Linked DNA regions of Homo sapiens. The protein of the gene in region 3 purifies or fractionates together with the protein of the main gene of each other region. This does not show direct contact. Each region holds a gene or a part of one and is shown on either strand. Other genes may lie near its edges.

What was found.
Region 1: the proteins of OSGEP (region 3) and HYKK purify together in Homo sapiens (affinity purification with mass spectrometry; 3 studies listed by BioGRID and IntAct, with this or other methods). This does not show direct contact.
Region 2: the proteins of OSGEP (region 3) and NUP43 purify together in Homo sapiens (affinity purification with mass spectrometry; 4 studies listed by BioGRID and IntAct, with this or other methods). This does not show direct contact.
Region 4: the proteins of OSGEP (region 3) and POP7 purify together in Homo sapiens (affinity purification with mass spectrometry; 4 studies listed by BioGRID and IntAct, with this or other methods). This does not show direct contact.

The regions. Positions count from the first base shown.
Region 1 is NC_000015.10:78,502,517-78,511,588, reverse strand, and holds the start of HYKK (hydroxylysine kinase), read right to left. Parts: upstream 4,013-9,072; 5' UTR 3,918-4,012; intron 1-3,917.
Region 2 is NC_000006.12:149,722,884-149,730,015, forward strand, and holds the end of NUP43 (nucleoporin Nup43), read right to left. Parts: exon of another isoform or gene 6,636-7,132; coding exon of another isoform or gene 6,607-6,635; exon of another isoform or gene 5,678-6,606; coding exon of another isoform or gene 5,637-5,677; exon of another isoform or gene 5,597-5,636; intron 5,596-5,596; coding exon of another isoform or gene 5,507-5,595; exon of another isoform or gene 4,316-5,506; coding exon 4,086-4,315; 3' UTR 1,432-4,085; downstream 1-1,431. UniProt on the Homo sapiens protein: Component of the Nup107-160 subcomplex of the nuclear pore complex (NPC). The Nup107-160 subcomplex is required for the assembly of a functional NPC.
Region 3 is NC_000014.9:20,445,528-20,452,856, forward strand, and holds the end of OSGEP (tRNA N6-adenosine threonylcarbamoyltransferase), read right to left. Parts: intron 6,922-7,329; coding exon 6,802-6,921; intron 6,623-6,801; coding exon 6,447-6,622; intron 3,740-6,446; coding exon 3,644-3,739; intron 3,487-3,643; coding exon 3,437-3,486; intron 3,285-3,436; coding exon 3,206-3,284; intron 2,645-3,205; coding exon 2,579-2,644; intron 2,468-2,578; coding exon 2,377-2,467; intron 2,164-2,376; coding exon 2,088-2,163; intron 1,994-2,087; coding exon 1,895-1,993; intron 1,753-1,894; coding exon 1,713-1,752; 3' UTR 874-1,712; downstream 1-873. UniProt on the Homo sapiens protein: Component of the EKC/KEOPS complex that is required for the formation of a threonylcarbamoyl group on adenosine at position 37 (t(6)A37) in tRNAs that read codons beginning with adenine.
Region 4 is NC_000007.14:100,700,821-100,707,986, forward strand, and holds POP7 (ribonuclease P protein subunit p20), read left to right. Parts: upstream 1-5,300; 5' UTR 5,301-5,484; intron 5,485-6,000; 5' UTR 6,001-6,010; coding exon 6,011-6,433; 3' UTR 6,434-6,666; downstream 6,667-7,166. UniProt on the Homo sapiens protein: Component of ribonuclease P, a ribonucleoprotein complex that generates mature tRNA molecules by cleaving their 5'-ends. Also a component of the MRP ribonuclease complex, which cleaves pre-rRNA sequences.

The DNA.
Region 1 (9,072 bases), on a different chromosome or scaffold from region 3:
TCAGGCTAATTTTTTGTATTTTTTGCAGAGACAGGCTTTCACCATGTTGGCCAGGCTGGTCTTGAATTTCTGGGCTTAAGTGATCTGCCTGCCTCTGCTTTGTAATCCCAAAGTGCTGGGATTACAGGCATGAGCCACCACGCTGGGCCTTGAATTTTTAAGTATGATTTGGATACATGGGCGGGGGAGGAGACTGTTTTCTTTCTCTTGGTAATTCCACCCTCTGCTACCCACACCTGGTATATTTTCTGAGCATCCAGCTACATATGAAAGACAATGTAGGTCTTCTGAACATGCTTCAGGAACCAAATATTTAAGGTCGTTAGAATCTCATGCTGTTTTCCCAAAATAGTTTTATTCTAATCCTTCTTTCATACTAAGTTGTAAATAATTGATAACATCGTGAGGGTGAGCTGCATTTTAGGGTATGTTTTGATTGCTGTTCAGGGGATACAGTACTATATAAAAATAATCTTATGGGCTGGGCACAGTGGCTCATACCTGTAATCCCAGCCAGCACTTTGGGAAGCCAAGGTGGGAGAACACTCAAGGCTAGGAGTTCGAGACTAGTCTGGGCAACATAATGAGACCCGCTTCTCTATTTAAAAAAAAAAAAAAAAAAAAAAAAAAGAATCTCATGAAGAGTTAGCTTTTGTGGAAAGTGGAAGATGTATTGCTTCTGACAGGGAAGGGGCATGAGAGAACTTTCTGAGAGGCAAGTGTTCTACATCTTGATTAGGCTTTGGCGACATGGCTTACATTTGTCAAAACTTAACTTAAAACCTAAGTAAACTAGTAAGATCTGTGAATATCACTGAATGTAAAATTTACCTCTAAAAAAGAAAGAGCGCTTCTGAGAAATTGGCTAGGACAGAGGAGGTGGATCTTAGGACTTTCTTGGAACTCTAAAAATCAGACCATATGCCTGTTAATGCCTAATTTATTTGGCTGTATCATAGCAAAAACCCACCTAACTCCAGTGAGGGAAAGGGGATAACATTCAGGGAGATATACCAGAAATCTCCTATATGACCCCCTCCCTGCCTCAGTCCTAGGACTATGGCCTGATGACTCAAGTTAAAATAAGGGTAGGTAAAGACAGTGGTTCACGCCTGTAATCCCACCACTTTGGGAGGCTGAGGTGGGTGGATCACCTGAGGTCAGGAGTTTGAGACCAGCCTGGCCAACATGGCGAAACCCCATCTCTACTAAAAATAAAAATAAAAATAAAAAAAAAATTAGCCGGGCATGGTGGCCGGCGCCTATAATTCCAGCTACTCAGGAGGCTGCGGCAGGAGAATCACTGGAACCCAGAGGGGTGGAGGTTGCAGTGAGATGAGACTGCGTCACTTCACTCCAACCTGGGCGAAAGACCAAAATTCCATCAAAAAGAAAGAAAAGTAAAGAAAAGAAAGAAAAGAGAGAAGAGAGAGCAAGAGAAAGAAGAAAGAAAGAAAGAAAGAAAAGAAAGAAGAAAGAGAGAGAGAGAAAGAAAGAAAAGAAAGAAAGAAAAAAAAAGAGAAGAGAAAATAAGGGAGAGGTAACCCTCAAACGCTAACCACCCCCTAGCCCCTGCCATGGCCTTCCCTGATCCTCCTACCCAAAGTGATTGCTCCAGCCTCTTAACTTGCATAGCTTGTGCCACTGATCGGTTTCCATCACCTGTTACTGCAAGTTAATGCCTTCTTGACAATCATGTTTCCTGTTTACTTTCTAACCAGGCATTTGCTTTCAGAAGCAAGTTAAGCCGTTCAGATTTTGTTCACTGAAGGTACTGTGACAAAGCCTAAATGGAGTTTCAAAACAATCTTTGCACTTGAAACTTCTGGGAACCAACATATCCTGTCACACTGTATTTAGGCTTAAAACTTTACAAGGAATTTTAACATTCTTTCTGGAGATATGTAAACTGGTATAAGGTAAGTATTCAAAATGCAATATGGACTGAAGCATTAACTCCAAGATGAAATCCTGGAGTCATTTTCAACTCCCAAAGCGTTAACGATGTCAGAACAATTCTGAATTTGAAATGAATGATAAGTTCTTAAAGTTGTAAGGAACCTTAGAGGCAACTGGTGAAGGCCAATCTCCTTTCTATTCCAGATGTTCCCATACAATCTTTGACTTGTTAAGCTCCTCTTAGGAGAGCGCTGTTTTCCATAGCCATGTAAAGCAAGGTTGTTAGCTCTGGCCATCCAAATAGACTGATGTAATAAAAGGCTGTGCTGGGAGAAATAGGACATATTTTAGTCCCAGTTCTGCTACCTAACCTCTGAAACTCTGGACTAGTCATGTCTCCTCTAAAACAGAGTTGGATTAGATTATTACTAAAAGTCTCCTCTAGCTCTAGTATTCCATGCCACTAAAGTTCTTTAAGTTCGCCTTTTTTCTTTATATAAGCGCTCCATATCATAGAACTAATGGCACAGATCAAGTCAACTCTTGAGAGTAAATAAAAACAAAGAAAAAAATATGTTTATCAGACATGTCTGTCTTAACCAAATGTCTCCTTTGTATGGAGGGGAATTTTTTTTTTTTTGTTTTTGAGACAAGGTCTCTGTCACCCAGTCTGGAGTACAGTGGCACAATCACTGCTTACTGCAGCTTCCAACTCCTGGGCTCAAGGGATCCTCCCACCTGAGCTTCCCAAATAGCTGGGACTGCAGGCAGGTGCCACCATGCCTGGCCTTTTTTTTTTTTTTTTTTTTGGAGAGAGAGGGTCCCACTATGTTGCCCAGGCTGGTCTCGAACTTCTGGGCTCAAGCAATCCTCCTACCTTGGTCTCCCAAAGTGCTGGGATTACAGGTGCAAGCCATCATGGCTGTCTTTTTGATTTTATTATTTTTATTTTTTTAGAGACAGTGTCTCGCTATGTTGCCCACTCACACATTTTTAAAAATTATTAACTTTTTTTCCTACTTCATTGAAAGGGAGAGGAGGAATTCAGGTACTATAGGCTGTTGGTCTATATATCCGGCCAACAGTATTTAGCTCCTGAAAAAGCCCGCAGGAAGCAAGTGTGATTTCCAACTCCAAGATCTGCGTCAGAATCTCACCACCTTTGTCCTGCAGCCGGGAGGGGGCTGGAACTTAAGCTCTGTACTTTGTGCAAAGTATACCAGACAAGAAACAGGAGTCATTCTTGATTCTTTCCTGTCCCTCACTCCCAACGTGTAACAAAGTCTAGTAAATTCTACCTTAGCATGTCTTCCAACTCTACCTTTCTTCTCCTACATTCCCTTTTGCTGCGTCCTTCCAAGGGATTATACCCAGTCAATCTCTGTATTCTCAGCCCCTAGGCTAGTCCCTTATTTAATATTAAATGGTGAACCAAGGGTGACCTTCATTCCACAGACTCACGGGGCAGTTCAACCCCAAGGGGATCATGAAACAGAAAGGTGGGGAATCTAGCATCTGCAGTTTTTCAAAGACAACAGTGCATTACTAGGTGCTTTTAAGGGTCTTCCTGGTGGGTGAAGGGGAAAAAGTGGTGGGTGAGCGGGCTGCAGAGGGGCTGCTGAACCAAGAGGCAGGAAAAGAGAGGAGGAGGGCGCATGAGTAAGTGAGGTTCAGCGGAGCTCAGAGACTGCTCCCAGTAGACACCGGCCAGGCGCCGGCACAGCCCTCGGCCAGCGACCCCACACAGACCCGGGAGGGCTGGCCTCGACAGCTTCTCGGGTGCCACGCTTTCATTCTGGGGGCCCAGCTCAGCCCTCCTAGGTTACAGGTGAGGTCCGGGAAGAAGGGTGACTTGCCCATCACGCACGCAGCGAGCTGAGGATAGCGCGGGCTGGAGGAGCCTGAGGCATAGGACTCCCGGCTCCACACTTGCAGCGAGCCTCCCTGCCCTCGGGGGCGACCCCGACTCCCGCAGCGGGGACGCAGGGCTCGTCTCTGCTTCCCCCTCCTTGGCTCACCGGCAGCGACCCGACGTCCTGGGGTGGATCCCGCTTTCCCGCAGACAGGTAGTGCGGCCTCGGCCGCGCACCGGCGCTAGGAGGTAGAGCAGGGGCCGCAGCGCCCGCGCCCCTCCTCCAAGCCCCGCGAGTCCTGACTTCTGATTGGCTCCTCCCGGTCCCTCGCCGCCCAGTCAGCGCAGACTACTGGATTTTTTTCCCGGCCCCGCCTAGGAGGCTGCGAACAGAAATTCAGAGATTCGGCTTCTGTTGACTTTCTGCAACTCCGCCCAGCCTTCTCACAGTGAGTATCCCAGTCAGAATCCGGCTACCTTTTCATGAACCGGACTCCTTATTCCTGATTGGCTCTCCGGGTTGCCGCCCCACCCCGAGTGGGCAGGCTTTCGGCTCTTGAGTGGCACCTCCGAGTTTCGCAGGGTCCACGTTGTCGTGGCGGTAACACTGACAGCTCCTCACCCGCATCCACGTTTTTGTTTCCTAGCCTTCATTCCTTCTGTTGGAGGCACGTATCCTGGAAGTGATACGCTTAGAAAGCGTGGCCCCAGAGAGACTCGCAATCCCAGCCCCAGGAACTGTAAGGGTCCTGATTGGAAGGCCTGAGTAAGGCCTGGCTGCGTTCCGCAGGAGGATGCTGGAATGTTAGAACCCGAACAGTTTAGGCAGGGCGCAGATGGCTCACGCCTGTAATCCCAGAAATTTGGGAGACCGAGGCGGGAGGATCACCTGAGGTCAGGAGTTCGAGACCAGCCTGGCCAACATGGTGAAACCCCTCTCTACTAAAAATACAAAAATTAGACTCAGGGGGTATGTCTGCAGCTGCAGAAAGATGTATGGGAACAGACACACAACTCTCCCTCCGAGATAAGCACAACAAAGAGACACAGAAGCAGTCCAAGCCTCTGATAAACTCTCCCACTCCGAATCCTTAAAAACTTACTTAGTCTGTAAGAGAGTGTGCCTCTGACCTAACTTGGCCAGACGCCCCTCTCAGGTTTTCTCTAAAATAAACCTCTTATGACCACCAAGCCACTTTTCGTGTTTCTTTCCTCTTTCTTTAATTCTTACACCGAGTAGTTGGGATTACAGGGGCCCACCACCACGCCTTTATCTAGGTAGTGGAATCAGTGGGCTCTCTTTCTGCAGGAAAGTCCGCAGAGACCCCATGATTTTCAGAAAGCTGCACGAGATTCATGGAGTAACAGCCAGGTTAGTTGGATGGTCTTAACTGTTAAGGGCATGAGGCGCTGATAAACAGCTTGATGCCCTTCTCCAGCCAAGCAGGACTTCTCCGATAAGTCAGAGCCCTCTATCTACTGTAGGCTACTGGAAGAGAGTCCTGGGTACTGGTCCACTCATGCCTGCAAATTGGTTTCTTATTTTGTTTTTGCCAATGCACATCCACCCTTTGTTTTCTGTCAGGATATAACACACTCGGATTATCTATAGTCACCCTGATTAACTTGGATGATTCCCAGACCCCTATCAACCACCTACTGAGGGAAGCTTCTTCTCCTGCTTTAGATATGGTTCTTACCTGCTTCACTTCTAATCTCCAAAAGGCAGGGCTGTTTTTCACAACCCCAGGGGAACATAATTAATATCTCATTCCTTTAGATTGTCAAAGAGTGATTTTGACTTGGATTTTTCTGTAACCAGAATTGGAATCCTATTGGCTCCCTTAGGCCCCTCTGCATGCTTTTTGCCTTGAGTGGCTTCTGAGTTATTTCCACCTGTCATTATTCCAGCTCTACTGGTCTTTCTCTACTTCTCTTGGGATGAGGGAATGGGAATTAAGATTGAATCTGGAAATTGTGAGAATTGGAGGCAGGGCTATTGGATCCACAACTGCCCTCTTTGGTATGTGCATTTCCACTCCCTGAATTCTTCTGAAATATAGTATTTGGTAGGGTGTGGTGGCTCACGCCTGTAATCCGAGCATTTGGGGAGGCCGATGGAGGTGGCTTACTTGAGTTCAGGAGTTTGAGACCCGCCTGGATAACATGGTGAAACCCCATCTCTACTAAAAAGACAAAAATTAGCCGTGCGTGGTGGCTAGCGCCTGTAATCCCAGCTCCTAGGAGGCTGAGGTAGGAGAATCGCTTGAACCTGGGAGATGGAGTTTGCAGTGAGCCGAGATCGCACCACTGCACTCCAGCCTGCATGACAGAGCAATACTGTCTCAAAAAAGAAAAAAAAAAATGTACTTTGTAAATTGCCTTTTTCACTTTAAGTGACCATTTCCTTGTTTTAAAGAATATCCTCGGCCGGGCGCGGTGGCTCACGCCTGTAATCCCAGCACTTTGGGAGGCCGAGGCAGGCGGATCACAAGGTCAGGAGATCGAGACCATCCTGGCTAACACGGTGAAACCCCGTCTGTACTAAGAATACAAAAAAATTAGCCGGGCATGGTGGCGGGCACCTAGAGTCCCAGCTACTCGGGAGGCTGAAGCAGAATGGTGTGAACCCAGGAGGCGGAGCTTACAGTGAGCCGAGATCGCGCCATTGCACTCCATCCTGGGCGACGGAGCGAGACTCCGTCTCAAAAAAAAAAAAAAATAATAATATCCTCATACATAAATCTTTCGTGCACTTTATGTGTTTAAAACTGCTCAGCATCATATTACTAGGTATAAGAGAATAAACACTTTTAAGGCCTTTTTATTTTTTGAGACAGGGTCTCACTCTGTCACTCGGGAGTGCAGTGGCGTGATCTCAGCCCACTGCAACCTCCGCCTCCTGGGGTCAAGGGATCCACCCACCTCAGCCTCCCGAGTAGCTGGGACTACAGGTGCGCATCACCACGTCCGGCTAATTTTTTGTAGAGACGGGTTTCGCCATGTTTCCCAGGCTGGTCTTGAACTCCTGGGTTAAGCAATCCTCCCACCTCAGCCTGGCAAAATGTTGGGATTAGGGGCGTGAGCCACTGCACCCGGTCTAAGCCTCTTAATACATGTTGTCAAATCATGTTTTCCTCTCAATAATACCAACATTGGATTTTAAACATTTACAACATTTACAACATTTTAAAAAGTTCCACCAATGTAAGACAAGATGCGTTGTCATTTTTTTTTTTTTTCTTGAGACAGAGTCTTGCTCTGTCGCCCAGCCTGGAGTACAACAGTGCGGTCTCAGCTCACTGCAACCACCGCCTCCTGGGTTCAAGCGATTCTCCCGCCTCAGCCTCCCGAGTAGCTGGGACTACAGGCACATGCCACCATACCCAGCTAATTTTTGTATTTTTAGTAGACACGGGGTTTCACTATGTTGGCCAGGCTGGTCTCGAACTGACCTCGTGATCCGCCCGCCTTGGCATCCCAAAGTGCTGGGATTACAGGTGTGAGCCACCGTGTCCGGCCAGATATGTCATTTTAAGCGGGGCATGGTGTTGCATGTCTATAGTCCCAGCTACTCCAGGAGGCTTGGGCAGGAAAAGTGCTTGAGCCCAGGAGTTCGAGGTCAGCCTGGGCCACATAGTGAGACCCGTTTCTAGGGGGGAAAAATGTCATGTCATTGTATTAACGTTTCTTCAGTTGGCTACTGGAGCACTTTTAAGTAGTTGCTCTCAAACATAGCTCAGTGGCTGGTCATGGTGGCTCATGCCTGTAATCCCAGCAGTCTGGGAGGCTGAGGTGGGAGGACTGATTGAGGCCAGGCGTTCAAGACCAGCCTGGGCAACACAGTGAGACCCCCACCTCTATTTTTATAATTTTTTTAAAAAAGAGCTCAGCGATAAAAAAAAAAAAAAAACAAAACTGGAGTGAAACAAAATGAACAATTTGCAGTGAGATTATGGACATGATTTTACATTATAAAACAATGTCTCATAAAACAATATCCCAGCAGTTTTATGATACTTCCTTTATATATTACAAGTTGTTTAAAATGCTCAAAATTGGCTTTAGTTTCCACGGTGGGCTACAGCTAAAGCAGCACTTAGAGGAAAATTTAAATATTTACATTTACATTGGAGGAAAAGTGTTACAAAGCTGGGGGAAAGGAGGAAATTAAATAAGTAACAGAAAGGAAATACTTCAGAGCAGAAACCAATAAAACAAAACAAACCGGGCACGGTGGCTCATGCCTGTAATCCCAGCACTTTGGGAGGCCCCGGTGGGCGGATCACAAGGTCAGGAGTTTGAGACCACCCTGGCCAACATGGTGAAACCCCGTCTCTACTAAAAATACAAAACAAATTAGCCAGACATGGTGGCGCATGCCTGTAATCACAGCTACTCGGGAGGCTGAGGCAGGAGAATCACTTGAACCCGGGAGGTGGAGGTTGCAGTGAGCCGAGATCGCACCATTGCACTCCAGCCTGGGCAACAGAGCCAGATTCCGTCTCAAAAAGAAAAAAAAAAAAAAAAAATCCAAAACCAAAACCAAACAAAAAACCAGAAAACAATGGAGAAAATAATGTAAAAAATTGGCTCTTTAAAAAATTAACTCAATTTCTAACCCTTTAGAAAGACTAATCAAGGAAAAAAAAGAAAACACAAATTACCAATATTGGTAATAAAAAGGGACCCTGCCACAGATCATATAGATATTGATAGGGAAATACTGAAAAAAATGCTTAAAATTCAGTACTAACACCACATAAACACAAAATTCACAGTGACAACACACTTATTTAAAAGACAGGGTCTTGCTGTCACCCAGGCTGGAGTGCAGTGGCATAAATCATAGCTCACTGCAGCCTCAACCTAGGCTCAAGCGATCCTCCTGCCTCAGCCTCCCAACTAGCTGGGACTACAGGTGCACAGCACCACACCAAACTAATTATTATTATTTTTTAAGAAACAGGGTCTTGCTATGTTGCCCAGGGTGGGGTCAAATTCCTGACTTCAAGTGATCCTCCTGCCTCCTGCCTTGGCCTCCCAAAGTGTGAACCACCTCGCCTGGCCACACTTGTCATTATACCAGCAAATTTTGTGAGAATTACATATGCATCTGCTTTTGCAATAAATGCATTTTTCAAGTACAGAACACAGGTTTACAACATACATCAAATCAAAATGGTAAATCTGAAGCTACTTTGTAATTAAAAAGCAAAATTAGCATCAAGTGAAAACTGTAAACCAACTAAATGCTACACTGATGAAGCTCTTAAGTTTCCTCCTAGACTGCATATTCAAACTATCAGCTTGTGCCTATG
Region 2 (7,132 bases), on a different chromosome or scaffold from region 3:
TGAGAAGACTCCAGCAGTGGGCCTAAAAACTTCATTTCATTTAACATCTTTCTGGCTGGGCATGGTGGCTCTTGCCTGTAATCCTAGCACTTCGGGAGGCCAAGGCAAGTAGATTGCTTGAGCCCAGGAGTTCAAGACCAGCCTGGGCAATATAGTGAAACACCATCTCAATAAAAATTGCAAAAATTAGTCAGGCTTGGTGGTACATGCCTGCAGTCCCAGATACTTGGGAGACCGAGGTGGAAGGATCACTTGGGCCCAGGATATCGAGGCTGTAGTGAGCTGGGGATCACACCACTGCACTCCAGCCTGGGTGACAGAGTGAAATCCTGTCTCAAACATCTTTCTTAATCAATGGGATGAAAGTGGAGAGAGCACGCTGGGCTAATTATGGAGAAAATAATAGCTTCTACAAAAGATTCAAAGAAAATAGTTAGTCCTTTCCTATATTGAAATGAAATTTTTCTTAGAACAAGAAAGGCCCATATTAAGGATTAAAAACCATTTGTATTAACTTCCGAATATAGGAAGTGTGGCTTAGGAGTATCACATGTGAACACTTCAGAAAGCTGACACAGCATTACAAAGGAATATCATTCCTATTAACAGGATGGCAAGATTTCTGTCATAATCACCAAGGTAGACAATATATGAAAAAGTGTTTATCTTGGAAGTCACACTTAAAAGAAGGCCTCTGGCCGAGCACGGTGGCTCATGCCTATAATCCCAGCACTTTCGGAGGTGGAGGAGGGTGGATCACTTGAGGTCAGGAGTTCAAGACCAGCCTGGCCAACATGGTGAAACCCTGTCTCTACTAAAAATACAAAAAATTAGCTGGGCGCACACCTGTAATCCCTGCTACTCGGGAGGCTGAAACAGGAGAATTGCTTGAACCTGGGAGGCAGAGGTTGCAGTGAGCTGAGATCGTGCCATTGCACTCCTGCCTGGGCGACAGAGCGAGACTTAAAGTCTCAAAAAAAAAAAAAAAGGCCTTTGACAAAGAGCAGTAATTTTTAAAGGGAAAACAAGATTGTGAAAACAAGGTCAATTAACAGTGACTCATTGCTTACTATGGTTCAGATACTGTTAAACACTGTTACACGAAGACATGGGCGCTGTTCTTGATCTTGTGGCCCAGTAGGGGGAGACAGGCTCCTTAACACACTGCTTTGCGCACAATTTAAGTTCTGCACAATGGGCTTTTGAAGCAGAGTGCAATTTAGTCCGGATTGCTGGAGGCCAATAAAAGCTGTCTGGAGAAAATGACACCTAGAAGGAGTCTTGAAGGATAAGAAGGATTTAGCCAAAAATGGAAAGAAAGAGAAGGAAACCTTCACTGGAGAGACTATAATAATCAATTTTGAATATTTGAATATGTGATGAGAGGAATTTTGTGTGTGTGGCTCCCGAGATAAGACAGATAGAAGCAAATTTCAGTTCAGTATATGAAAATTCATTTATTTAGTGAAACCCTGACATTAAAGCGTCCCAACACAAAGCAGATTCGAACATAACAACTGGTGATTGGCTCATCTCACAGGCTCACATCATCAGTGTGTTAACATACAATAGGACTGTACCCTTTTACAGGATTGAGTGTTTTGGATCCCACTCACACACTAAAACCCTGCCATAAAGTTGTATCAATTAGGGCTGTTCAAATGTGAAACTGTATTGGAAAATGGGAAACTTTATCTCCTTATATATGTATATTTTTTGAGATGGCGTTTTGCTCTTTTGCCCAGGCTGGAGTGAAGTGGCACGATCTTGGGTCACTGCAACCTCTGCCTCCCGGGTTTGAGCAATTCTCCTGCCTCAGCCTCCCAAGTAGCTGGGATTATAGATGCCTGCCACCACGCCCGGTTAATTTTTTTTTTGCATTTTTAGTGGAGACGGGGTTTCGCCATGTTGGCCAGGCTGATCTCGAACTCTTGACCTCAGGTGCTTCACCCACCTCGGCCTCCCAAAGTGCTAGCATTACAGGCGTGAGCCACCATGCCTGGCCACCATATGTTTTTAAGTATAGGTTGGATGATAATTTGTTGGGAATACCATAGAAGGGATGATGAAATTTAGGCTGGAGATGATCACCAAGGTACTTTCTATCTCTAAGATCCTGCAACCCTTGAAAGACACTCTATTTGACAGTTTCATGAATAAAGGCAGTGACAATGAACAAATTCATAAATTACGGTGTTACATTACATAAAGCTTAGTTTCTTATTAAAATTGGCAAAACTTGTCAATTGGCATGAAATGTAATGCTGTTAAAATATACTTTCTCTTATGGTTACAAATACTAAGTGGCTCACGCCTGTAATCCCAGCACTTTGGGAGGCCGAGGCGGGCTGATTACCTGTGGTCAGGAGTTCGAGACCAGCCCTGGCCAACATGGTGAAACCCTGTCGTCTCTACTAATACAAAAATCAGCCGGGAGCAGTGGCTCAAGCCTGTAATCCCAGCATTTTGGGAGGCTGAGGCAGGTGGATCATGAGGTCAGTTCAAGACCAGCCTGGCCAACACAGTGAAACCCCATCTCTACTAAAAATACAAAAATTAGCTGGGTGTGGTGGTGAGCACCTGTAATCCCAGCTACTCGGGAGGCTGAGGCAGGAGAATTGCTTGAACCTAAGAGACGGAGGTTGCAGTGAGCTGAGATCATGCCATTTCACTCCAGCCTCAGCAACAAGAGCAAAACTCCATCTCAAAAAATATATATATTTATTAGGACAGAAAAGCAAAACCTTACCATAATTCCATAACTATGATTATTGGAATTACAAAGTAAATGAACACTTCAATTGTCTAATAGCAGTGATTTGTCATTAAGGTCTCAGGTCAATAATACATTTAAAATCTAACAAAGTTTGGAAAGATAGTATCATTAAATTATCTTAAAACACTACATTAGTTCATTATTATCCCTGCAGACAAGGATAAAGATGGTTGGTAACACTATAGGTGGCTAAAACAAAGTAAAAGGATCAAAATGGCAAAATTCTTTACTCTGATCATATCATTTGATTAATCACACTTTTATCTATCACATTTTTAGTTTGGAAATAGTTTGCTTATCAATATAGAATTCTACTTTATTGCACAATGTCCAGTTTGGCAACTTTCAGCTATGCTGTGAAGCTAAACAAAAGCAAAGTTGGGTCTAACAAGCTGAAAGAGTTCTGCTCAAAAACCTATTCTGAAAAAGGAACTTGTCAAAACATTTTCACCTTAAAAAAATTTCAGGCCGGGTGCAGTGGCTCACACCTGTAATCACAGCACTTTGGGAGGTCGAGGCGGGTGGATCATGAGGTCAAGAGATCGAGACCATCCTGGCCAACATGGTGAAACTCTGTCTCTACTAAAATTACAAAAATTAGCTGGGCGTGGTGGCGCACACCTGTAGTTCCAGCTACTCAGGAGACTGAGGCAGGAGAATTGCTTGAACCTGGGAGGTGGAGGTTGCAGTGAGCCGAGATTGCACCACCGCACTCCAGCAGAGCAAGACTCTGCCTCAAAAAAAAAAAAAAAAAAAAATTGAACACAGCTACACATCTTTGTCATTTTTGCTCTACTCAATTCTTTCTGAAAAAGTTTATTATTATTAAGGAAATAAAGTGTGGAAGGATCATAGGAAATACTTGCAATAAAAAGAATAATCATTAACATTGGCAACTGCCACTAGGAAGGTGTATATGCCACATACTACTGATAAAAATTGTAGGAACCCATTGGTAGTTCCCATAACCACCATTGATGTGTTAATTCCCACAACATCAAAAATAAAGAATTAGTTCCACAAGCTGTCTGTCAATAATACTCTGAAGGCAACCTATTCATCAGCACCAGAATCCCACTGATTTTCTTCCACATGTTCACAATCTTTTGCCATCAGTCATCTATCGGATTCTACAACTGTTTGGGAGTGTCAGGCTAACAAAAGTCAAAACTGGGCATTGACATTAATGGTAGTTTACTGATGTTTCCCCTGCAAATCTCGTATTTTCTGATACTAAAATTTTGCACAGAAGTTGGATTTCAAAAGGCTAATTGCATGTTCTATCTGAAATCTTATAATTATAGTACTTCTACGAAAAAAGATGTCTAGTAACATAAATTGCTTCTGCATCGGTTCCACAAACAAGACAAGGACCTAAAACATCCAAAGTGTTCACAGACAGAGACCTACTGGGAAGTAAGCTTGTGATTTCAATTCGGTCTTTTGCAGGATCAGTGCTGAGCCAGGAGCTAATGACAGACTGGTGAACATTAGCTTGGTTACTAATGCTATGAGACAAAAAAGTACTGCTTCTTCCTCCTGGGAGAAAAAAAGAAAAGGAAGAAATCTTTCAAGATGATTTTTATATTAGTAAACATTCAAACTTCTACTGATATTTAGAAAGGTGATGATATCAATGTGTTTAATTCTCAGAATAATAGGCTAATAATTCCATTATTATACATCACCACTTTGGACCAAAGGCTTATTCAGTGATATTAAATATTCAAATTTCCATGGGATAATATGGATACCAAACTCGAAGTCTTCAGGAAAAGCAGGTGATTTCAACTGACTTTCTGTTCATCTTTTAATGGAAAGTCTCAGAAAGGTAGCAAAACGGCCAGCATACAAGTTGAATAAGGAAAGAAAAAAAAGAAACCAAAAATGTAGGTAATACATGGAAATATAAACTCTTGGGTAATAACAAAATAAAATGATCATGAGAAAGAATTTCTAGACATATTTCTAGATGAACATTTCTAGAAATATATTTCTAAATATATATTTGTTACTATATTTCTTAAAATATAATCGCCTTACCTCAAATCTTTCATTCTTATGCTTTTTAGATAAATGTTCTTACAAGCAGATTAGAACACTACTAGATTATAAGGTTTTATCTCTAACAGCGCACTGTACTTACTATAGAATAAAGTGAGGCAGAGGCAGTATATTTCAATTTTAGTCATTATTCGCAACTTACTTTCCTCTCAACTTGCTGTCATATCAAATAAGTACAAATTTAATTCACTCAACAAATGACTGAGTACCTACTATGTGCCAGGCTCTGTGCTAAGTGCTCTGTGCCAAGTCCCTATGTCTTGAAGCTTAAAGATTAGTACATTTAAAATCTTGCTGATCCTTTAAAATATGGCTGAACTTCCTTCTCTAAGAAAACTTTGAAGACAACCTCTACTTCATGTTTTTCTCTTTCCTTGAACCCTCAGCACTTGTATGTACCATTAATTTACTACTTTATAACAATTCTTATATCCTAATTGAACTATCCATGCCTCTGTCCATGACTAAATATGTCTTAAGAGCAGGATGCATATTTTATATGTTTTACTTTTTCACAGTGTCTAATACTGTGCCTTGCAATAGTAGACACAGAATAAAGTTTTATTTCCAGTCTAACCAAGGTTCCTTAAAAGTAAACTTGCAAGTTCAAGACTGTGCGGTTAGGGGAGGAAGGAAGTAAAAACGAAGTACATACTTAGTTAATCCTTAGATGAAACTGTTTGTTTCTCTGTAGATGAAGTTATAGCATGGACATGCATGCATGCTCCACACATGCTCTCCGCTCCAGAATTTTTCTGAAGAAGTTTTAGAATTTTTTTCCCCTTAGTTTTTCTGTTTATCTTTTACTGCCCCTACATTTTACATTGCTCTTGGACGCTGTAAAGATTAACACATTATTCAAGCCACTGTGATAAGACTCCTTCCTCATCTCCCTGTTTTCCACTTTTCTCCTCCCCCTCCCATAAGTCTAAAGTCCTTATCATGGGCTACAAAGTCCCAGGGCTCCTCAGCCACCAGTCCTTATCTCCCACCACTGTACCCTGCTGCCTGAGCTCCAACCGTGGTGTCCTTGCAGTTCTCTGCCTGTCTCAGGCCCTCAGCATTTGCTGTTTCCTCTGCCTGGAATGCTTTCATGTCACTTATGCCTTCACTTCTCTTAAGTCTCTGCTCAAATGTTCCTTCTGCCAAGTGGCCTCTTCTGACTCTCACTAGAGTAGCTCCCCTCACCCCTGTCTTTATTCTTTATCCTCCTACTCTGCTGTATTCTTCTTCATGGTAATTAGCAGTGTATTTGGCCATGTTATTTTCCTTTTTCTTTTTTTTTGAGATGGAGTCTTGCTCTGTTGCCCAGGCTGGAGTGCAGTGGCGTGACCTTGGCTCACTGCAACCTCCAACTCCCGGGTTCAAGCAATTCTCCTGCCTCAGCCTCCAGAGTAGCTGGGATTACAGGCACCCACCACCACGTTCAGCTAATTTTTGTATTTTTAGTAGACACAGGGTTTCACCATGTTGGACCAGGCTGGTCTTGAACTCCTGGCCTCAGGTCATCTGCCCACCTCGGCCTCCCAAATTGCTGGGATTACAGGTGTGAGCCACCGCGCCCGGCCTCCTTTTCCACTTTGCTGTGCTCCACTATATACTGTAGGAGGTAGAAGTTGGTAAACTCCACTTTCCAGGCTGCTTTGCCATCTGCCATCCAGATGGGCCTTGCCAATAGCAGGTATTAATGGTGGGTGACTGGAAGGCGGAAGGGAGAAGCAGCTCCTTCCTGCTCCAGGTTTCTGGCAACAACACTGGTGGTAGTTTCAGCCTGGTTGAGGGAGCGCCTTTTCTCCTAATTCAGAACAAACTTTTACAGCATTTTCAACAGTCAAGTAGCAGGGGTACTAACAATTACTATTTCTGGGTTTTCCCTTTTCTTCCTATTTGTTCTCCCAGCACCCCTCCTATTACCTTTTGTTTTCCCAGCCCTTCTAACACATGTGAGACCAATTCCTTCTACATCTAAGGTAGTTTCTGACATTCTAATTGGACTCTTACTGATACATTATCTATTTTTTTAACTATTAGAATATTTGCTCTATGCGTTTCGACATTTCGTTCTGCTCACTGTTACACGTCCTAACACCTAGAAGAATGCCTACCACATGGTAGGCATTCAGTAAATATTTCTGAATAAATGAATAAGCAAAAGAACTTTGGAGCCACAGACAAACCCTCAAAAACAGGAAACTTGGAAAATGCAAAAACACATAAACCCCGATTACAAGTGCATGGTCTTTGGCTGACCATAACCTACAACTGACTGTAATGAGGAAAGCACGCCCTTTT
Region 3 (7,329 bases):
GTAGGTGATGAGTTGAATATGACAAAAGCAAAAGAGGGGAAGGGAAATGAGGTGGATTATGGGAATTTAGCTGAAGGAGGGAAATAAAAATACGTGGGGGATAAAATCTGCAGAAAGGAAGTATGATCAATGGACCGTAGGTCCTGGTGAAGGGATGAACTGTTGGATTTAGCATACTAAAGAAAATGAACTGGAAGAACAGGAGGTGGTGGTAGTCGAGAGTGGGACGTCTGAAACTGAGATGTGGAGGATCTGCAGCTCCAGAACATGACCAAGGAAATAAGTGGCTGAAGCGGGTGTTAGTATGATCTACCTGAATACTGAAATAAGATTTATGACAAACGTGGTGTTCGTATGGTAGTTTCTTTCAAAGCAGAAGGGTACTAGGGATGAGGGATAATGGTCTGGAAACAGTATGAGGACACGTGCACCACCTCCAGGCCCAGTGGGACACTGGGTGTGGAAGGGAAAATGCCACCACTACTGAGGTGGTAGGAGAAGCAGAGTCCTCATAAGAAACCAAGTCTGAAGAGCATAAATGTGAAGGGAACGTTCAGAGAAGAGGTTGAGGACACAGAGAATTTGACAAATGACTGGCCATCAGTTCCAGAGGGCACAGTGGAAGAGCTTCTAGAGTTGGAAAAGGTAGGTAGATGGAGACAAAACAGAGTGGAGATACATGGTTATTAAGTGTAAAAGATGAGATGACTCAGTAGTTTAGGACTAATTGTGATGATTGATATCAACATCAATAAGATTAAGGGTATGAGATTCGTTCTGTTGTTTGTGGTACGGAGGGATGTGCATCTGCGGGCATTCCTCAAGCCTGCCGATGGATGTGCATGTAGGAGAAAGTATACGGAGTAGAGGCAGTTTTAGAGTTACAAGTTAGACCAATCTCCAGGCTGTTTGTTTGTTTGTTTTTAAGAGACAAGGTTTTGTTCTGTCACTCAGGCTGGAATGCAGTGGCTCAATCACAGCTCACTGCAACCTCAAACTCCTGGGCTCAAGCTATCTTCCCGCCTCAGCCTCCCTTGGAGCTGGGACTACAGATGTGCGCCACCATGCCCAGATAATTTTTACATTTTTCAAATAGATGGTGTCTTGCTATTTGCCCAGGCTGGGCTCAAACTCCTGGGCTCAAGGGATCCTCCTGACTTGGCCTCCCACAGCACTGGGATAACAGGTGTGAGCCTCCAGGCTATTTTGAGAGAAGTCTTGCACACCTACTTCAAAGAATTTAAATGAGAGAATGAATGTAAAGCAGTTAGCACGGGACCCGATGCTATAATAATAGTTATGATACTACTATTGTTGCCAGGCACAATGGCATCCTTACTCAGGAGGCTGAGGTGGTAAGACTGCTTGAGCCCAGTTCGAGACCAGCCTGGGAAACACAGCAAGATTCCGTTTCTTAAAAAAAAAAAAAAAGATACCTCATTCTTGGTTCCACAGCAGCAAGCTCCAACAAGAATTTATCCAGCACCAAATCTACATTGGTCCTGAACAACACAATCCAATCACCAACATACAAAACCAAAAAACCAAAAATATTTTATTGCTGAGTCATCCTGGGGTTCCATAAAGGACCCCAAGCCTTGCTTGGAGTCTATAGCTTTGCTAGGACTCCCATGACATCAGGATAGAGATTGAGGCACGGGGTCCTTTGGGTTCCGATTAAGGAACTATCTACTCTGATTCTGTTGATCTTATTAGTCCCTCCAGGTCACCTCTACTTCATCTGTCCGATACCTGTGGAAAAACAGAAGAAACATGGTGGAGAGCGAGCCCTTAACATCCTTCATTCTTCTCTGCCCTCATGTTCCTGGACTCTTCCCTGCTGTTTTTGTCTATGTCCCAATAATCTACCCTCACCAAGAGGTGAATCACTCACCTCTGTGTAACCCCAGAATCACTGAGTGGGGTCCTGTGTCCAGCCCGAAACATCTCCCAGCCAGCCTGGGCTATCATCGCTCCATTGTCAATACAGAATCTGGGATGCAAGAGAGATGAAAATTGGGATCTAAGGGTGGAAAATCACTATAACAGGAGAAGTAAAAAAGAAACCAAAGGGAAAGTGTCTTTACCTCTCATCTGTAGCAAAAAGCCGGGCTCCACGTTCCTGGCACATTGTTGCCATCATCTCCTGTAGCCTCACATTACCTACAAAGAGGCAGGGAACAGGATTAGCTTAGTTTTAGCCATCTCTTCATGGTCCAGCAGAACACGTCATGTGCACTCACTTAGAACAATGACATAGGGGATTAGGGGCAAGGATTGGGAAGCCTACTCCAAACGCTTAATGATTTAGAGTACCAGGAGGAAGACGCATAGTGTTAAGAATAGGAAAGAGGAACACTTTTCAATAATACATACACCCCACTCCTCCCACAATGAGGGCCTCCTGGGAGCCACAATGTGCCATGGCTCGCTCTGTGATCTCTACCAGCATTGCAAACACAGTTTCCTGTCAGGGACAGATAAGGAGAAAATATTAGAGGGGCATCCCAGATTAGTTCTGCTCTACAATATAAAACCTTCAGCCCCAACTTTCTGTCCCAGTTTTTTACTGCATTACCTGCAGGGAGAAACACAGATCCTCAGGAGTACACTCGCCTGTGGCCAGCATCCGATGGGCTACATCCTACAATTAAAGGGAAAAACAAAAGAATCAACAAATCATGGTTTTGGGATTACACGAGAGCAAAAATTAATGCATTCGGAGGGTCATCATGTTTCACCACAATTCAAGTTACCAGCACATCCTGTACCACATTCCCTTCACTGGCATCATGGCATAGAATGAGCAGCTTTCATTTAAGATGCAATCATTACTTTTTGAATACTTGTCCTGACATCTCTCACCCCTTACTTATCCTGCTTAATTTTTCACCTGTACTCATCATCATCTGGCACTTCATTATTTTCCTCTTTCTTATCTCCCCCGCCCCCCATTTAGAATCTAAGCTCCATGTAGACAGGGATTTTTGTTTTGCTCCATGCTGCATCTCTACTATCTAGAACAGCATGTGGCACACAGAGATATTCAATGAATACCTTCTAAATGAATTTACCCAGCACATGATATGGACCAGTACTGTGCTACATGAATATACTGAGCTATACGAAATATAATCGTAAGTAAAACAGATATGCTTCATTTAAAAAGCATGAAAGTGCCCGTCTCATCACCTCTCACACTCACCTCAATGAAAGACAGGATCCCTGAGAATGAGACGTCCATCCCCTTTACAGTGTATGGCAGCTCAACTAGCTTCTTGCCTCTATGTGGGAATAAGCGTACGAGGCACTAAGCCTACAGTCAGCTGGCTTCTCACCCTCCAAAGCCCGTCCCAAATTTTGTTAATATATACCGTATATGGGGAAATCCCTGAAGCCCCAGCAGCCAGCCTGCTTCCACCTTATGTCCCCTTACCGCTTTGCCATCTGTTCAATGTTGTATCCTGGACTTGGGTCGTTAGAAATCTAGCAGAAGAAAAAAATAAGGAAGGAGGGAATGGAAGAGGATGAAATCAGATATGCAGGAAGCATAAGAAGCTCATTTACTATTTCCTCCCTCCACCTCCATGGCTTCCCAAAAATTCACCCACATTTTATGTTCTCTGCAGCCCCACTGGCTTACCTTCAGCACTCGAGCAAAACGATCCAGACAATTACCCACTGCAATATCGATGGTTTCCCCAAAGATACGGTAACGATGTTCCGAGTATGCAATCACCTAAGGGTGATGAGGAAGTCCATGAAACCCCAAGTCTGTAAAGAGGATTATTTGGCTTTGGGAGAAAAACATAGCAGAGGATCAACATGACCACCAGGGCTTCCAATAAGAAGTGGAAGAAAGGTGTTTCCCAAATGGTGAATGGGTAGTTTTTACAGCTCTGATTTGAGAAGAAATCTGTATACCCTGAGGATTCCAGGAACAGATTCCTAGACAGTGTAGGTTCAGGCAGAAATAAATTGTCATTTCAAATACATTGGTTTTCCGGCTTAGAAGTTCCTAATATATCCCTTAAATGCAGTCTTGATAGTAGGTAACCGGCTTTTCTGCTTGGAGGCAGAGAACATGAATCCTTCTAAATTATGACACAGTGGCAGTGGTAATTTTTTTTTGAGACAGGGTCTCGCTCTGTCTCCCAGGCTGGAGTGGAGTGGTGTGATCATAGCTCACTGTAGCCTCCACCTCCTAGGCTCAAAGGATCCTCCCACCTCAGCTTCCTGAGTAGCTGGGCTACCATGTGTGGCTTATTTTTATATTTTTGTAGAGATGGGGGTCTCACTATGTTGCCCAGCCTGGTCTCAAACTCCTGGTCTCAAGCAATCTACCTGCCTCAGCCTCTCAAAGTGCTGGGATTATAGGTGTGAACCACCGTATGCAGCTGGGCAGTGGTATTTAGAACCAAGAAGCAGAGCTGAAGAACTCAAAAATCTCATATGGAGTCAGACTAATGGCCCAGCCAAGTCAGCAATGGCAATTCACTTAAGGCCATTTTTCTTTTCTTTTTTTTTTTTTTCTGAGACAGAGTCTTGTTCTGTCGCCTAGGCTGGAGTGCAATGGCGTGATCTCAGCTCACTGCAACCTCTGCCTCCCAGGTTCAAGCAATTCTCCTGCCTCAGCCTCCCAAGCAGCTGGAATTACAGGCACCCACCACCACTTTTTTGTATTAAGGCCGTTCTTCATATGTGACCAACTTTTAGCACAGAGAATATCTGTCCCTTACTGACACATATTCTGCAGACTTATAACACCGAGGGCTTCCTACGAACCTTAAGAAGTCCCTTTCCCTTCCCAGTGCTGTTAGGGATTTCTTCCCTTTCTGATACAGATCTTAATCTGCTGTCAAAAAGACAGTAACAAAGGCGAAGGAAAAATCCTGCCTTTCTGCTTCTGCTATCCACTCCTCTCCACCTAATCACCCTCCCTGTTTCTTACACCTAAGCAAACATTAAAAGAGAAGAGGAAGACAAAACCGTCACTGCTCCTTTCATCAACTCTTGTAGCCTCCATTATACTTTCCACAACCCAAGTCTCTGACCTTGTATGTCATCCTTCAGGCCTCAACCAACTACTTGCCCTCTACCTGCTGAAGTTTCTGCATCATTTTCATGGGAAACATGTGCCTCATCTTCTCGACACAACCCTTTCATGAGCTGGGGACAATGCTGAACTATTTCTAATGATAATCAAGTGTTCTGTTGGAAAAGAATCCAATCCCAACCTTAAAAAGGTCATATAAGGTAACCCAAACAACTTTAGCTTCACCTATAAATTTAAAATACCTTCTGGCCGGGCATGGTGGCTCACGCCTGTAATCCCAGCACTTAGGGAGGCCGAGGCAGGTGGATCACCTGAGGTCAGGAGTTCAAGACCAGCCTGACCAACAGGGTGAAATCCCGTCTCTACTAAAAACACAAAAAATTAGCCAGGTATGGTGGCGGGTGCCTGTAATCCCAGCTACTCGGGAGTAGAGAAGAATAGTTTGGACCCGGGAGGCAGAGGTTGCAATGAGCCAAGGTTGCATCATTGCACTCCAACCTGGACAATAAGAGCGAAACTCCATCTCAAATAAATAAATAAATAAATAAGATAAAATAAAATACCTTCTATAATTTACAAAGTATTTTTTAAAGTTATTTATATTTCTAAACTCTTAGAATAACAAAGTCTACATAATCATTCCCAGTAATATAAAAACAAAACATGTACTTGCCCCAAAATAATAAATCAGGTAGTGTCCTTTAGTTGTTTTTTTTTGTTTTTTGTTTGTTTGTTTGTTTGAGACGGAGTTTTGCTCTTGTTGCCCAGGCTGGAATGCAATGGTGCGATCTCGGTTCACCGCAACTTCCGCCTCCTGGGTTCAAGTGATTCTCCTGCCCAGCCTCCGGAGTTGCTAGGATTACAGGCACCTGCCACCACATCAAATTAATTTTTGTTATTTTTAGTACAGATGGGGTTTTGCCACGTTGGCCAGGCTGGGCTCAAACTCCTGACCTCAGATGATCCACCCGCCTCGACCTCCCAAAGTGCTGGAATTACAGGCATGAGTTGCCATACCCAGCAACTGTTAGTTTCAATTGCTAAGATTTATAGAAAAAATAAGCTTCAAAATAATGCAAGAGCTTTCAGATATTCATTATTTTGAAGATTTCAATCCTTTTCAATCCCATTCATTCCTTTCCTGAAGTAGAAATTCCTAATCTTTATAATCAGATATAAAGTCTGATAATGATAAGCCATCTAATGTTCTGATCATGCTGCCAAAATTTGCAATGTTACAAACTCTGTTGGGGGTTTTCTGGTCTACAGTATTTTAGGTTCAGATAAGTCCATCTTTGTTCCTGACATTCCCATGACTCAGATAGAACAAAGAAAATACTGGTTCAGTGCCTCAGAAATTGAGATGGAGTGGGTAGAGCCCTCTAAATACCTGCGTATTTCCTCCACTCACATACAACACGGTTGGGCTGGTGGCTCCAGTGATGAGGCGGCCCATCTCAATGTGGCCTATACAGTGGTTCACACCCACCAATGGCTTATTCCACAGTTGGGCCACAGTACGGGCCACAACAGCCACAGAAACCAGTGGGGCACCCATGCCAGGGCCTAGGGAGATAGAAATGGAAGTTATAATCCTAGAGATTGGAAAAAAACAATAGTGGGGGACATAAGGGATGTGAGGTGGGGTAGGGGTAGTGATGGTGGCAGAGGTAAGGTGTTGGCTATTTTGACCTAGCCAGGTTGCAGGTATATTCCTCCATCGTTGACCACTCTCCCAGCCATACCCTTGGTGTATGCAATGCAGTCGATATCCTGGGAGGTTAATCCAGACTCTGTTAGTGCCTCCTGCAGCAGGTCTAGGATAACAGCTCGGTGATGCCTGGCTGTATCACCTGGAAGGAATCCTAGAAAATGAACATAGGTCAGAGATCACAGGGATTTTCTGTAGCAAAGGTAGGTAGGAAGTTAAAGAAAGCAACAGGAGTTTTAGTGATGTAGTAAGAGTCCTTTCACTTTCCCCAAGCATCCTATCTTCCACATTTTCACATCTACTCTTTCCGGCTTCTATATAGGCTATTCAACTTTCAGAAATGCTCTTCTTCTTACCCTACTCAGCCTTCAGGTCTCAATGCAAGTAGTATCTACCTCATACCCTTTCGTGATCTTTTTTTTTTTTTTTTCTTTTGAGACAGTCTCAGCTCTGTCACCCAGGCTGGAGTGCAGTGGCACGATCTCGGCTCACTGCAACCTCCACCTCCTGAGTTCAAGAGATTCTTCTGCCTCAGCCTCCTGAGTAGCTGGGACTACAGGCG
Region 4 (7,166 bases), on a different chromosome or scaffold from region 3:
GGCTAGTGATATTGAACATCTTATGATGTGCTTATTTACCATTCTTATACTCTCTTTCACTGAAATGTCCGTTTAAGATTTGCCCATTTTCTTTTTCTTTTCTTTTTTTTTTTTTTTTGAGACAGTCTTGCTCTGTCGCCCAGGCTGGAGTACAATAGTGTGATCCTGGCTCACTGCAACCTCTGCCTTCCAAGTTTAAGCGATTTTCAAGTCTCAGCTTCCCGAGTAGATGGGATTAACAGGCGCCCGCCACCACGCCCAGCTAATTTTTGTATTTTTAGTGGAGACGGGGTTTCACCGTGTTGGCCAGGCTGGTCTCAAACTCCCAACTTCAGGTGATCCACCCACCTCAGCTTCCCAAAGTGCTGGGATTACAGGCAAGAGCCACCGCTTGCTTGCTTGCTTGCTTCCTTCCTTCCCTCCCTCCTTCCTTCCTTTTTTCTGTTTTTTCTTTCTCTCTTTCTCTCCTCTCTTCCTTCCTTCCTTCCCTTTTTCTTCCTTTCCTTCCTCTCTCTTTCTTTCTCAGACCCTCACTTTGTCACCCAGGCTGGAGTGCAGTGGTATGATCACAGTTCATTGCAGTGCTGTCCTCCTGGGCTCAAGCAATCCTCCTACCCCAGCCTCCTGAGTAGCTAGGACTGTAGGCACAGACCACCAGGCCTGGCTAATTTTTAAATTTTTTGTAGAGACAGGATCTCACCATGTTGCCCAGGCTGGATTTGCCCATTTTCTAATTGGGTTGTTCGGTTTCTACCTCTCGAGCTTAGAGAGTGCTTTATATATGCTGGAAACAAGTCCTTTGTTGGATATATGATTTGCAAATATTTTCTTCCAGTCTGTGGCTACTCTTTTCATCTTATTAATGTGATCTTTCACACAGCAAATGTTTAAACATTTTGATGAAGTCCAATTTATCATTTTTTTTTTTTGAGACGGAGTTTTACTCTTGGTGCCCAAGCTGGAGTGCAATGGCGCAATCTCAGCTCACTGCAACCTCCGCCTCCCGGATTCAAGCGATTCTCCTGCCTCAGCCTCCTGAGTAGCTGGGATAACAGGCGCATGCCACCACGCCCGGCTAATTTTTTGTATTTTTAGTAGAGACGGGGTTTCACCATGTTGGCCAGGCTGGTCTTGAACTCCTAACCTCAGGTGATCCACCCACCTCAGCTTCCCAAAGTGCTGGGATTACAGGCATAAGCCACCGTGCCCAGCCCAATTGTTTTTCTTTTATGGATTGTGCTTTTGGAGTCATGTCTAAGAACTCTTCGCCTTTAGCTGGGCATGGTGGCATGTGCCTGTAATCCCAGCTACTCAGGAGGCTAAGGCAGGAGAATCTCTTAAACCCGGGAGGCAGAGGTTGAAGTGAGCCGAGATCGCGCCACTGCACTCCAGCTTGGGCGACAGAGTGAGACTCCATCTCAAAAAAACAAACAAACAAAAAAACAAAACTCTTCACCTGACCCTACACCATGAAGTTTTTTCCTAAATCTACTATCCATTTTGTATTAACTTTTTGCATAGGGCTGAGGCTCATTTCTTTGCCTATTTGTCCAATTGTTTCACCACCACTTGAAAGGATCATCCTTTCCCCATTGAAACGCTTTTATACCTTTGTCAAAAACAAGTTGTTTGGCAGTGGCTCACGCCTGTAATCTCAGCACTTTGAGGGAGCTGAGGCAGGAGGATTGCTTGAGTCTAGGAGTTCGAGATCAGCCTGGTCAACGTAGTAAGACCTCGTCTCTACAAAAAATAAAACAAAATTAGCCGGGTATGGTGGCGCGTGCTGATAGTCCCAACTACTTGGGAGGCTGAGGCGGGAAGATGACTTGAGCCCATGAGGTTGAGGCTGCAGTGAGCCAAGATTGTGCCACTGCACTCCAAGCCTGGGTGACAAAGTGAGACACTGTCTTATAAACAAACAAAAAATTATTTTTTAAAGAGAGATAGTTGGCTGCACTTGTGTGAATCTATTTCTGAGCTCTCAATTCCATCTTATTGATTTTTGTGTCTATCCCACTGGGGAAACCATACTTTCTTGATAACTTTATTTATATAGTAAGTCTTAAAATCAGGTAGTGTGATTCCAACAACTTTTTCAAAGTGGTTTTAACTATTCTACTTCTTTTGCCTTTCCATATAAAGTTTAGAATAAACATCTATATTTAATACAAAAAAACTGCTGGGATTTTTGTAGGAATTGCATTACGCCTATAGATCAATTTGGGTTTTTGTTGTTGTTGTTTGAGACGGAGTTCGCTCTGTTGCCTAGGCTGGAATGCAGTGGTGTGATCTTAGCTCACTGCAACCTCTGCCTCCTGGGTTCCACCTATTCTCCTGCCTCAGTCTCCTGAGTAGCTGGGATTAGTACCAGGCACGTGCCACCACACCCGGCTAATTTTGTATTTTTAGCAGAGACGGGGTTTCACCATGTTGGCCAGGCTGGTCTTGAAATCCTGACCTCAAGTGATCTGCCCACCTTGGCCTCCAAAGTGCTGGGATTAAAGGCGTGAGCCACCATGCTTGGCCCCTATAGATTAATTTGAAGAGAATTGGTATCTTTACTATAATATGTTGGATCTTCCAATTCAATCCCAATCTTGTGGTTAATGAAAGAATCTGAAGTAAAGGAAAGAACTATGGGATTGAAATGGGGTGCTGGGAGCAAATTTCTCTAGAATCTGAACTCTCTTCAACCTTTGATCAAATGGGGTCAGACTCCATCCTAGGGAACTGAGAAGGGCCTGGGAGACATAAATATGCCAACTCACCTGTGTAGGTTTACAGTTTACAACATTACCTTGGGTTTCACAACTCAACTGCAAGAAAGGAATTAGCATCCCCATTTTTTTTAAACCAGTGTTTTCATATCCTTTATTCCCAAGTCAGTGTATTTGTCAGTTTGAATGTTACATGTATGATAAAACAGATTATGAAAAGCATACTAACGAGAACATTATTTTATATAACTGATCATTGAATATGCAACCTCTTGCAACAATAACTTAATGGACCCAACTCTACCTTCTAAATGGACCAATTTTATGATTCTCCTAAAATGTTTTGAGTTGGGTATAGTTTCTTGTTGCTTCTTCCTGTGATCCAAAGCTTAAAAATGAGGCTGGGCACAATAGCTCAAGCCTGTCATCCCAGCACTTTAGGAGGCCAAGGTAGGAGGATCACTTGAGATCAGGAGTTTGAGACCAGCCTGGCCAACATGGTGAAACCCCATCTCTACTGAAAATACAAAAATTAGCCGGGCGTGGTGGTGCACACCTGTAATCCCAGCTACTCAGGAGGCTGAGGCAGGAGAATCGCTTTAACCTCAGAGGCAGAGGTTGCGGTAAGCTGAGATCGTGCCTCTGCACTCCAGCCTGGGCAACGGAGCGAGACTCCGTCTCAAAAAAAAAAAAAGGAATGAATCTCTGGAAACTAGCAATTAGAGCCAGACCTCCCTAGGACCAAGGAGACAGGAGTTGGAGAAAAAGACACTACAGGTGATGCCCACAGTCTCAAGCACTGTGGCATATGCTTGACCTCAGAGCATTCCAGTACTCAAGGTCAAGTGTGGCACCATCCGTATATCCTGTCATCGCAAATGCCCGCAACTGCTACAATTAACAGGATATGGGAGAGAGGAGGCACATCATGTGAGGAGGAATGAATCGCTCCCAACAATTATGTGAACATTTCGAAAATTTCTTTTTTTTTTTTTTTGAGATGGAGTCTGGCTCTGTCCCCCAGGCTGGAGTGCAGTGGCGCGATCTTGGCTCTCTGCAAGCTCCGCCTCGTGGGTTCACGCCATTCTCCTGCCTCAGCCTCCCGAGTAGCTGGGACTACAGGCGCCTGCCACCATGCCCGGCTAATTTTTTGTATTTTTAGTAGAGGCGGGGTTTCACCGTGTTAGCCAGGATGGTCTCGATCTCCTGACCTCGTGATCCGCTCGTCTCAGCCTCCCAAAGTGCTGGGATTACAGGCGTGAGCCACCGCGCCCGGCCAACATATCGAAAATTTCAATACCAAGGATTAACTTCTAAAATACAACTTTATATGCTAGTGCATGCCCGTAGTCCAAGCTGTTCAGGTGGCTGGGGCGGGAGAATTGCTTGAGCCCAGGAGTTCAGGGCTGCAGTGAGCCGTGTTAACGCCACTGCACTCCAGCCTGGGTGACAGAGTAAGGCCCTGTCTCAAAAAAATGAAATAAACTGGCCGGGTGCGGTGGCGTGCGCCTGTAATTCCAGCTACTCAAGAGGCTGAGGCACAAGAATCGTTTGAACCCGGTAGGCAGAGGTTGTAGTGAGCTGAGATCACACCACTGCAGTCCAGCCTGGGCCACAGAGACCCTGTCTCAAAAATAAATGCATGCAAGTTTGTAGACAGAAGCTATACAGCTAGCCATTCAATAAAATGCATGTGCAATATGGTGGAGCTGTTGTGAACATCCCCATTTGAATGCTGGGCAAACAGAGTAGTTCAAGGTCCCCAGTGCAGCAGGTCCTACTCATTTCAGAAGGGAACTCTGCAGAAACTATGCCCATCTGGGCAGAGCCCCCACTCCACTGGCCTGAGAGCCACGAATCCGGCGCGCGTCCTCCCCACCTTGCCCGCCAGGGGGCGGCAAGTCCCTGATCCGGGGTCGCCTGCTGCAGAGCTGGTGGGAGATGGTTGAGGGGCGTGGGTGGGTCAGCGTTCCTTGGGGACCCGTGAAGCCTGGGCTTAGGGCTCACAGCGTGGGTCCCCAGCACAGACAGGAGGCGGACAGCTTCCCGTGAACTGCAGGGGAGTCCCGGGACGCTGTCCTCCAGCGAGGTGGGGACCGGCTATGTCCCTCAGTTCCCCCTCGGTCCTCGGGCCACAGGGACATTAGACTAGGGGGTCAGTTCTGCCAGCCCTGCCCAGGCCTCTTCTGACCAGAGGAGCTGCGACGGACGCGGAGTTCAGGCCCCTTGGCGACCGCGGTCTCCTGAACTCGGCCCCTTCCCTGCTCCCATGGGGAAGAACCCTGCCCCTAGAACAGCCTCCCCTCCAGGTGTCTTCCCTACGCTACCCCTCCGCCGGCCGGGAACTCCGCCAGGCCTAGAGACGCCGACCCGGCCCTTTCTAGCTCCTCCCCGGCTCGGACCTGGTTCCCGCCCTCGGCCGCCCGCCAGTTCCCGAGGCGTACACGTGTAGATCCCGTCACGCCCGGAAGTCTCGCGTTTCTCAAACGCCTCGCGCAGTCGCCCTTGCGCTCAGGGAAGGGGCGGGGCGAACGGAAGCCGGGAAGGCGATTCATAGCTCGCGGGGTACGGGCGCGCGTGCGCACTCCGCAGCCCGTTCAGGACCCCGGCGCGGGCAGGGCGCCCACGAGCTGGCTGGCTGCTTGCACCCACATCCTTCTTTCTCTGGGACCTGGGGTCGCGGTTACTTGGGCTGGCCGGCGAACCCTTGAGTGGCCTGGCGGGGAGCGGGCCTCGCGCGCCTGGAGGGCCCTGTGGAACGAAGAGAGTAAGCACGGGAGGGGCGGCGGAGGGGCGCGAGTTTGAGGGCGACGCGATGAATGAATCGGAACGGGGGGTGGGGAGACGCGGGATCTGGAGGTGAGTGGGAGAGGACGAGGGGCCGGAAGGAAACAGGGACATCGAGTGTGTCCCTTCTCGGGTGCACCCTTTATTTTTGTTTTTGTTTTTGTTTGAGACAGAGGCTTGCTCTGTTTCCCAAGCTAGAGTGCAGTGGCGGGCGCGATCACGGCTCACTGTAGCCTCGAACTCCCGATCTCAAGCGATCCTCCCCCCTCGGCCCGGGTAATTAAAAAAATTTTTCTTAAGACAGGGTCTTGCTATGTTGCCCAGGCTGATCTCAAACACCCGGGCTCCAGTGATCCTCCCGCCTCGACCTTCCAAAGTGCTGAGGTTACAGGCGTGAGCCACTGCCCGGCCAGGTGCACCCTTTGTACAGGAAAAGGGGTAGGAAAGGCTTCGAGGTCCCTCTGAGCCCTCTGATCGCGTCCCTTTCCCACGCCAGGGCACACAGCATGGCAGAAAACCGAGAGCCCCGCGGTGCTGTGGAGGCTGAACTGGATCCAGTGGAATACACCCTTAGGAAAAGGCTTCCCAGCCGCCTGCCCCGGAGACCCAATGACATTTATGTCAACATGAAGACGGACTTTAAGGCCCAGCTGGCCCGCTGCCAGAAGCTGCTGGACGGAGGGGCCCGGGGTCAGAACGCGTGCTCTGAGATCTACATTCACGGCTTGGGCCTGGCCATCAACCGCGCCATCAACATCGCGCTGCAGCTGCAGGCGGGCAGCTTCGGGTCCTTGCAGGTGGCTGCCAATACCTCCACCGTGGAGCTTGTTGATGAGCTGGAGCCAGAGACCGACACACGGGAGCCACTGACTCGGATCCGCAACAACTCAGCCATCCACATCCGAGTCTTCAGGGTCACACCCAAGTAATTGAAAAGACACTCCTCCACTTATCCCCTCCGTGATATGGCTCTTCGCATGCTGAGTACTGGACCTCGGACCAGAGCCATGTAAGAAAAGGCCTGTTCCCTGGAAGCCCAAAGGACTCTGCATTGAGGGTGGGGGTAATTGTCTCTTGGTGGGCCCAGTTAGTGGGCCTTCCTGAGTGTGTGTATGCGGTCTGTAACTATTGCCATATAAATAAAAAATCCTGTTGCACTAGTGTCCTGCCATCCCACTGCCACTGATTCTTTCCTGTGTAAATTCTGTGTGTGCCTGAATAGGGATGGTAGGAAACGCTACAGGTATCTAGGTGAAAGGGGAACCCAAGTGTTTCTTGCCTCTATAGAGAGCATAGATTATGCTATGAGCAGTGTAACAAAACAGTACAGTGCAGAAACCCAGTCATCCCAATGTTTGTTTGTTTGTTTGTTTTTTGAGACAGAGTCTCACTCTGTCACCCAGGCTGGAGTGCAGTGGTGCAATCTTGGCTCACTGCAAGCTCCACCTCCTGAGTTCACGCCATTCTCCTGCCTCAGCCTCCTGAGTAGCTGGGACTACAGGTGCCTGCCACCACACCCTGGCTAATTTTTTTGTATTTTTAGTAGAGACAGGGTTTCAGCGTGTTAGCAGGGATGTTCTCGATCTCCTGACCTTGTGATCCACCCATCTCGGCCTCCCAAAGTGCTAGGATTACAGGCGTGAGCCACCGTGCCCAGCCCCA